Homo sapiens: one gene and its partner. The protein of the gene in region 1 interacts with the protein of each later gene in a pairwise test. Each region holds a gene or a part of one and is shown on either strand. Other genes may lie near its edges. The genes, in order: MIER2 and DBF4B.

Region 1 (3,813 bases):
GGTGGCATTAGATTCTCATAGGAGCGCAAATCCCACTGTGAACTGCACACACCAGGGAGGCAGGCAGCACACTCCTTATGAGAATCTAATGCCTGATGATCTGAGGTGGAACGGTTTCCTCCTGAAACCACGCCCCCTACTCCAACATCCGTGGAAAAATTGTCTTCCACGAAACCAGTCCCTGGTGCCAAAAAAGGTTGGGAGCCACTGTCTCACTGGATCTGCCTTGTGGATTCACTAACACTGAACTCACGGCCAGCAGCCCCAGAGCTTGCGCCTGAGTGGAGCTTCTCGAATTTTCTCTGAAAGGGACATCATAGCCTTCTTCCACCTAAGAACACCAGACAGAACGTCGGCACTACATTTAGGGGCCACTTTAATCCGTCAAGTAGCCGACACAAGGCACAAGGATGTGAAAAACGGCATTCAGTACACGGCAGGAAAGGCACGTGCTCACAGTAAAAGATCTGAGAGCCAAGACAGAGCAGCAGCTTGTCCCACCTCAGCTGGAACTGTACGTCAGGTAACTCGCCTTCACTGACACTCTACACACATCTGCTGGCGCCTGACCGTAAAGGTGTTGCGAGTTTTGATTTGCGGTTTCAAATAAATTTTACCAAGTAGGCAATTCACCAGCACAGAACCCACAAATAATGAGGACTGAGTGCATGAGATACATACACACAAGAGAGAACACTTCATGGCCAGGAAGCACGTTTATTCCACCGTGCACCGTTAACTTAACGTTTGAAAATCAATTTATGGGCCGGGCGCAGGGGCTCACACCTGTAATCCCGGCACTTTGGGAGGCCAAGGCAGGCGGATCACCTGAGGTTGGGAGTTCGAGATCAGCTTGGCCAACATGGTGAAACCCCATCTCCGCTAAAAATACAAAAATGAGCCAGGCGTGGTGGCGGGTGCCTGTACTCCCAGTTACTTGGGAGGCTGAGTGGGAGAACTGCTTGAATCCAGGAGGCGGAGGTTGTGGTGAGCTGAGATTATGCCACTGCACTCCAGCCTGGGCAACAGAGCAAGACTCCATCTCAAAAAAAAAAGATTAAAACTTGTCAGTTGCTGAAAAAAATAAGTTTTAATCTTAAAACTTACATAGATATGCAATGAAAACTTACAAAGTTAGAAGACTTGCACCACCTCAGACTTCCTTGTAACCTGTAATAACTGAGACAGTGGCGATGACTCCGGGTGAGACAAGACACACCTTACAGGCACCTGATTTACCACAAAGGCGTCACTGCAGCTCAGTGGGGGAGACAATGGACTTTTGTTGTTTTTATTTTTATTTTTATTTTTATTTTTTATTTTTGAGACAGAGTCTCGCTCTGTCACCCAGGCTGGAGTGCAGTGGCGCGATCTCGGCTCACTGCAAGCTCCGCCTCCCGGGTTCACGCCATTCTCCTGCCTCAGCCTCCCAAGTAGCTGGGACTACAGGTGCCCGCCACCACACCTGGCTCATTTTTGTATTTTTAGTAGAGACGGGGTTTCACCGTGTTAGCCAGGATGGTCTCAATCTCCCGACCTCAAGTTATCCTCCCACCTCGGCCTCCCAAAGTGCTGGGATTACAGGTGTGAGCCACCACGCCCAGCCACCATACACCAAAATGTAAACTAAGTTGGATCACAGCCTTAAATGTGAAAGGAAAAACAATAAATCTTCTAGAAAGAAACGTGGAAGAATATCTCCAAGAGCCTGAGGTAAGCAAACACTCCTTAAGTAGAACACACACACACATTATTATTCAAATAATGATTGATAAGTTGGACTTTATTAAAATTAAAGACATCACTAAGAGAGTCAATGGGCAAACCACAAACTGGAGAAAACAGCAGCAGTGCACAAAGCCCAGAAAGACTTGTTTCCACAAAATGTGAATGACTACAAATCAGAAAGGGAAAGACAACAAAATGGGAGAAAGCTTGGAGCACGCAAAGAGAGAATATCCAAATGGCCAGTACACCTGCGAAAGGTGCTCACCAGGGAAATGCCAATTAAAACCACAATGGGACAGGAGTCCATATCCACCAGACGGGCTAAAATTCAGGCAAATTCACCCTCAGTGGCAAACACCGAGAATGTGGAGCAACTCCCACAAATCATTAGTGAGAAACTCAAGCAGTATGCGTCACCCTAAGCACACACCTCCCACACGACTCCCCGCTGTCCATCAAGTGCCGAGTGCCTATGTCCACTAACGACGCACACGAGGGCATTCACAGCCCACAGCTGAACCAACCATGACCGCAGCCCATGGCAGAAAGGGTGGGTAAATGTGGCATCCAAACCAAGGACCACGATGCAACACACAAGACACACACAACCACGGCATCCAAACCAAGGACCACAATGGAACACACAAGAGACTCAAAAACCATGGCATCCAAACCAAGGACCACAACGCAATACACAAGACACACACAACCACACAGACAACTCAAATGACAGACGTCATCACAATGCAATACACACGACACACACAACCACGCAGACGACTCGAATGACACAGGCGTCATCACAATGCAATACACAGGACACAACCACACAGATGACTCAAATGACACAGACGTCATCACAATGCAATATACAAGACACACACAACCACGCAGACAACTCGAATGATACAGTCGTCATCATAATGCAATACACAAGACACACACAACCACGGCATCCAAACCAAGGACCACAACGCAATACACAAGACACATACAACCACGCAGACGACTCGAATGACACAGACATCATCACAATGCAGTAAAGACACACACAACCACACAGATGACTCAAAGAACAGACATCATCACAATGCAATACACAGGACACACACACACAACCATGCAGACGACTCGAATGACACAGGCATCATCACAATGCAATACACAGGATACAACCACACAGACGACTCAAATGACACAGACGTCATCACAATGCAATACACACACAACCATGCAGATGACTCAAATGACAGACATCATCACCATGCAATACACAAGACACACACAACCATGGCATCCAAACCAAGGACCACAATGGAACACACAAGACTCAAAAACCACAGCATCCAAACCAAGGACCACAATGCAATACACAAGACACACGCAACCACACAGACAACTCAAACGACACAGACGTCATCACAATGCAATACACAGGACACACACAACCACAGACAACTCGAATGACACAGACGTCATCACAATGCAATACACAAGACACACAAAACCACACAGACAACTCGAATGACACAGGCGTCATCACAATGCAATACACAAGACACACACAACCACACAGACGACTCGAAGGACATAGGCGTCATCACAATGCAATAAAGACACACACAACCACACAGACGACTCGAATGACACAGACGTCATCACCATGCAACACACAGGACACACACAACCACGCAGACGACTCGAAGGACACAGGCGTCATCACAATGCAATACACAAGACACACACAACCACGCAGACGACTCAAAGGACATAGGCGTCATCACAATGCAATAAAGACACAACCACACAGACGACTCGAATGACACAGGCGTCATCACAATGCAATACACAGGACACACACAACCACGCAGACGACTCGAATGACACAGACGTCATCACAATGCAATACACAAGACACACACAACCACGCAGACAACTCGAATGACACAGGTGTCATCACAATGCAATACACAAGACACACACAACCACGCAGACAACTCGAATGACACAGACGTCATCACAATGCAATACACAGGACACACACAACCACACAGACGACTCGAATGACACAGGCGTCATCACAAT
Region 2 (3,813 bases), on another chromosome or scaffold:
GGCGGGTGGATCACAAGGTCAAGAGTTCGAGACCAGCCTGACCAACGTGGTGAAACCCCGTCTCTACTAAAAATAGAAGCATTAGCCGAGCCTGGTGGTGCGTGCCTGTAATCCCAGCTACTCAGGAGGCTGAGGCAGGAGAATCACTTGAACCCAGGAGGCAGAGGTTGCAGTCAGCCAAGATCATGCTACTGCACTCCAGCCTGGGTGACAGAGCGAGACTCCGTCTCAAAAAAAAAAAAAAATTCGGCCAGGTGCGGTGGCTCACGCTTGTAATCCCAGCACTTTGGGAGGCCGAGGCAGGCAGATCACGAGGTCAGGATATCGAGACCATCCTGGCTAACACGGTGAAACCCCTTTTCTACTAAAAATACAAAAAATCAGCCGGGCGTGGTGGCGGGCGCCTGTAGTCCCAGCTACTCGGGAGGCTGAGGCAGGAGAATGGCGTGAACCTGGGAGGCGGAGCTTGCAGTGAGCCGAGATTGCGCCACTGCACTCCAGCCTGGGCGACAGAGCGAGACTCCGTCTCAAAAAAAAAAAAAAAAATTCATGGCCACCTAACAGGTATTGACTCTGTGCTACGAATTACCTCATTTAATCCTCACTACAGTCCTGTCCCCATTATACAGATGAGGAAATTGAGCCTCAAAGGGATTAGGCAAATTGTCCATGGTCTCACCAGAGTGTGTAGTGTGGCCCACCACTCTCAGTTTTACTCAGCTGTAAATTTTGTGCTCCTTCTTTTTTCACACTGTAAACAACCTGTTTGCAGCCTGTTTACACTAGAATAGTTGTCTTGAACCAGGTGGCAGTGAGTGGTTTCATACCCAGCTCCATTCTTGAGTCTGGAGTTTTCTGTGATCCATTTTAGAGGATTGGTCCAGATGGGACAGCCCATAGGTGCTGACTGGGGCGCTGCCCCACCCCTTGGTACCAAGATCTTCCAGGGGAGTCTAGAGGCTGTACAGGGGAAGTTCCTGGTCTGGGATGTGGAGGGCTTCATCTCACTGAAAAATCAGCCATTTCTGACTTGATTTCCTTCCCTGCCTTTCTCTGTTAGAGGAGTGCTAGCATGTTTAGCCCTTGCTGGTCTTTCACCTGAGGGTACAGCTGAGTAGTTCACACAGCATGGCCTCCCTCACAGCCACAGCTCTTCAGTGGTGCCTTAAAGTCCTTAGCAAGCCATGAGGCACCTTCTGTTCAAAGATGAGTTGTATTCAATGCTGCAAAAGAGCATGACACCCGCTCAGGTGCTGTTCCAGGGATAGAGGACCCAGTCCTTAACCTCCGCTGTCAGGAGATGCAGAGGGGATGTGTAGCCAGAAGGTGGCAGGCAAGGCTGGAGTGATTCAGTGGGCTGGCCCAGCGAGTTTAGTCCTGCAGCCCAGGAAGGGGCTGTGCTAGGTAAGTGAAGACTGGAAGCCTTTGGCACAAACCCTCTGTCTTCTCCACAGAAATGATGATGCACGTGCAACAGCTGTCTCTTGCGTCTTTATGTGTGAAAAAACAACAGCCAAAGAAGCCAGAGGTAGGTCATCCTGCTGAACTGAAGGACAAATGGATGGTTTTCAATGAAATCAGTGACAACTTAGGTAAATCCATGGCCCACCCAAACCATCTCTTCCTGGCCATTCTGAAAGATGGAAGAGGAATGCAGCCTCTTATTTACCTCAGTCCTAGTGCCCATAGCTTTGCAACACCCTTTCTTCTCTCTTCTCTGTGGCACTTGCAGTCCTCCCATGGCACACACCCTGCTGAGACATCCCTATGGCCTGGACTGCCTGGGCCATGGGCTCCCTACAGTAGTTCTGGACCAGATAAAGTTCATAAATGCCCATGGCACTGACCAGGCTGCTATTCTGGAACTTTCCCTGTACAGCCTCTAGACTGGGAACGAGTCTGCATACTGCAGGGGTGAGAAGGAGTGATTGAAATAGCTGCCATCTTCTAAATCCTTGTTTGTTTTCCATTCTTTGCTGGCGTTAGAACTGTGTGTACTACATCAAGAGAGCCCAACCTGGTTTAAAGCCACAGTATCTTCACCCAAGCCTCAATCTGAGGAAGGATTAAATCTACAGATCTACCCACAGCCTGGCATCCAGGCACAGGACGAACAGTAATAGCTATTAGTTAACAGTGCTAATTAGCTAACAGAACTAGCAAGCCACATCCAAAGTGGATGGAGCAGCTGGGCATGGTGGCTCACACCTGTAATTCCAGCACTTTGGGAGGCCAAGGCCAGCAGATCACTTGAGGTCAGGAGTTCAAGACCAGCCTGGCCAGTGTGGTGAAACCCCGACTGTGCTAAAAATACAAAAATTAGCCGGGCGTGGTGGCACATGCCTGTAATCCCAGCTACTCAGGAGGCTGAGGCAGGAGAATCTTGAACCCAGGAGACATGTTGCAATGAGTCATGATCGCACCACTGCACTCCAGCCTAGGCGACAGCAAAATTCTGTCTCAAAAAAACATAAAAAAATAGTGGATGGAGCATTCAGACACTGACGCCCTCTCCACACCCTCTCCTCTAGGAGTGTTGGGGACATTGCTGCTGTTAAATTTGTGTTATTCAAAATTCAAAAGGGTATACAACAAAAATTCTCGCCCTGCTCCAGCTTCTCCTCAACCACTGACCTTCCTCCCTGAAAGTGTGAACAGTTTCTAGGACTCTATGCACATAGAAGCAAATATGTCAAAAATTCCCCCCTTCTATGCAGATACACAGCATTTTTACTTTAACTTAATCAGTTTTGTAGGCCGGGCACAGTGGCTCACGCCTGTAATCCCAGTAATTTGGGAGACCGAGGCAGGTGAATCGCTTGAGGTCGGGAGTTTGAGACCAGTTGGCCAACATGGTGAAACCCTGTCTCTACTAAAATACAAAATTAGCCATGTGTGGTGGCGCATGCCTGTAATCCCAGCTACTTGGGAGGGTGAGGCAGGAGAATCGCTTGAACCCTGGAGACAAGTTGCAGTGAGCTGAGATCACACCACTGCACTCCAGCCTGGGCAACAGAGTGAGACTCTGTCTCAAAAAAAAGAAAAAAAAATTAGTTTTGTAGATATCTAGCAGTGAAGTGAGTTTTGGGTGTAATGTGCTGATACGCAAGGGAATGTGAGAGGCTTCTTTGGATTGTGTTTGCCCCCAAGGTGTGGCCTAGAGGAGAATCTGGAACTTCTTAAGGCCCAGAGGCACAGGTGGTCATGGATCCACCATCATCCTGGCCCTCCAGCTAAAGCTGATTTTTTTATTTTATTCCATTTATCTTACATTTATTTACTTATTTTTCAGGTATATACCAGAAGATCCATTTACTCTTTTTTCTTTTTATTTTATTTGTTTATTTTACTTTACTTTTTTTGTGAGACAAGGTCTGGCTCTGTCGCCCAGGCTGGAGTGCAGTGGCGCCATCTCTGTTCACTGCAACCTCCACCTCCTGGGCTCAAACCATCCTCCCACCTCAGCCTCCCAAGTAGCTAGGACTACGGGCATGCGCCACCATGCCTGGCTAATTTTTTTTTTTTTTTTTTAAAGATAGGGTCTTACTATGCTGCCCAGGCTGGTCTCAAACTTGTGAGCTCAAGCAATCCACCTGCCTCGGCCTACCAAAATGTTGAAATTACAGACGTGAGCCACCACGCCCGGCCTCCATTTACTTTTTAATATCAGCTTTGTTTGACCTTGGCTTAAACATTGATTTTGACCCACAGGATCAGAGTACACAAGATAGGACATAGGAAAGCAAATGGCTATCGTCTTTATCCTAGTCCTATAGGGTACCTGGAACAGCATCAGTACCTAGAAAATAAAGC

Evidence for each region.
Region 2: the proteins of MIER2 (region 1) and DBF4B interact in a two-hybrid assay, tested with the Homo sapiens proteins (one large-scale study listed by IntAct).

The regions. Positions count from the first base shown.
Region 1 is NC_000019.10:320,599-324,411, forward strand, and holds part of MIER2 (mesoderm induction early response protein 2), read right to left. Parts: intron 1-3,813. UniProt on the Homo sapiens protein: Transcriptional repressor.
Region 2 is NC_000017.11:44,732,636-44,736,448, forward strand, and holds part of DBF4B (protein DBF4 homolog B), read left to right. Parts: intron 1-1,454; coding exon 1,455-1,528; exon of another isoform or gene 1,529-1,546; intron 1,547-3,813. UniProt on the Homo sapiens protein: Regulatory subunit for CDC7 which activates its kinase activity thereby playing a central role in DNA replication and cell proliferation. Required for progression of S and M phases.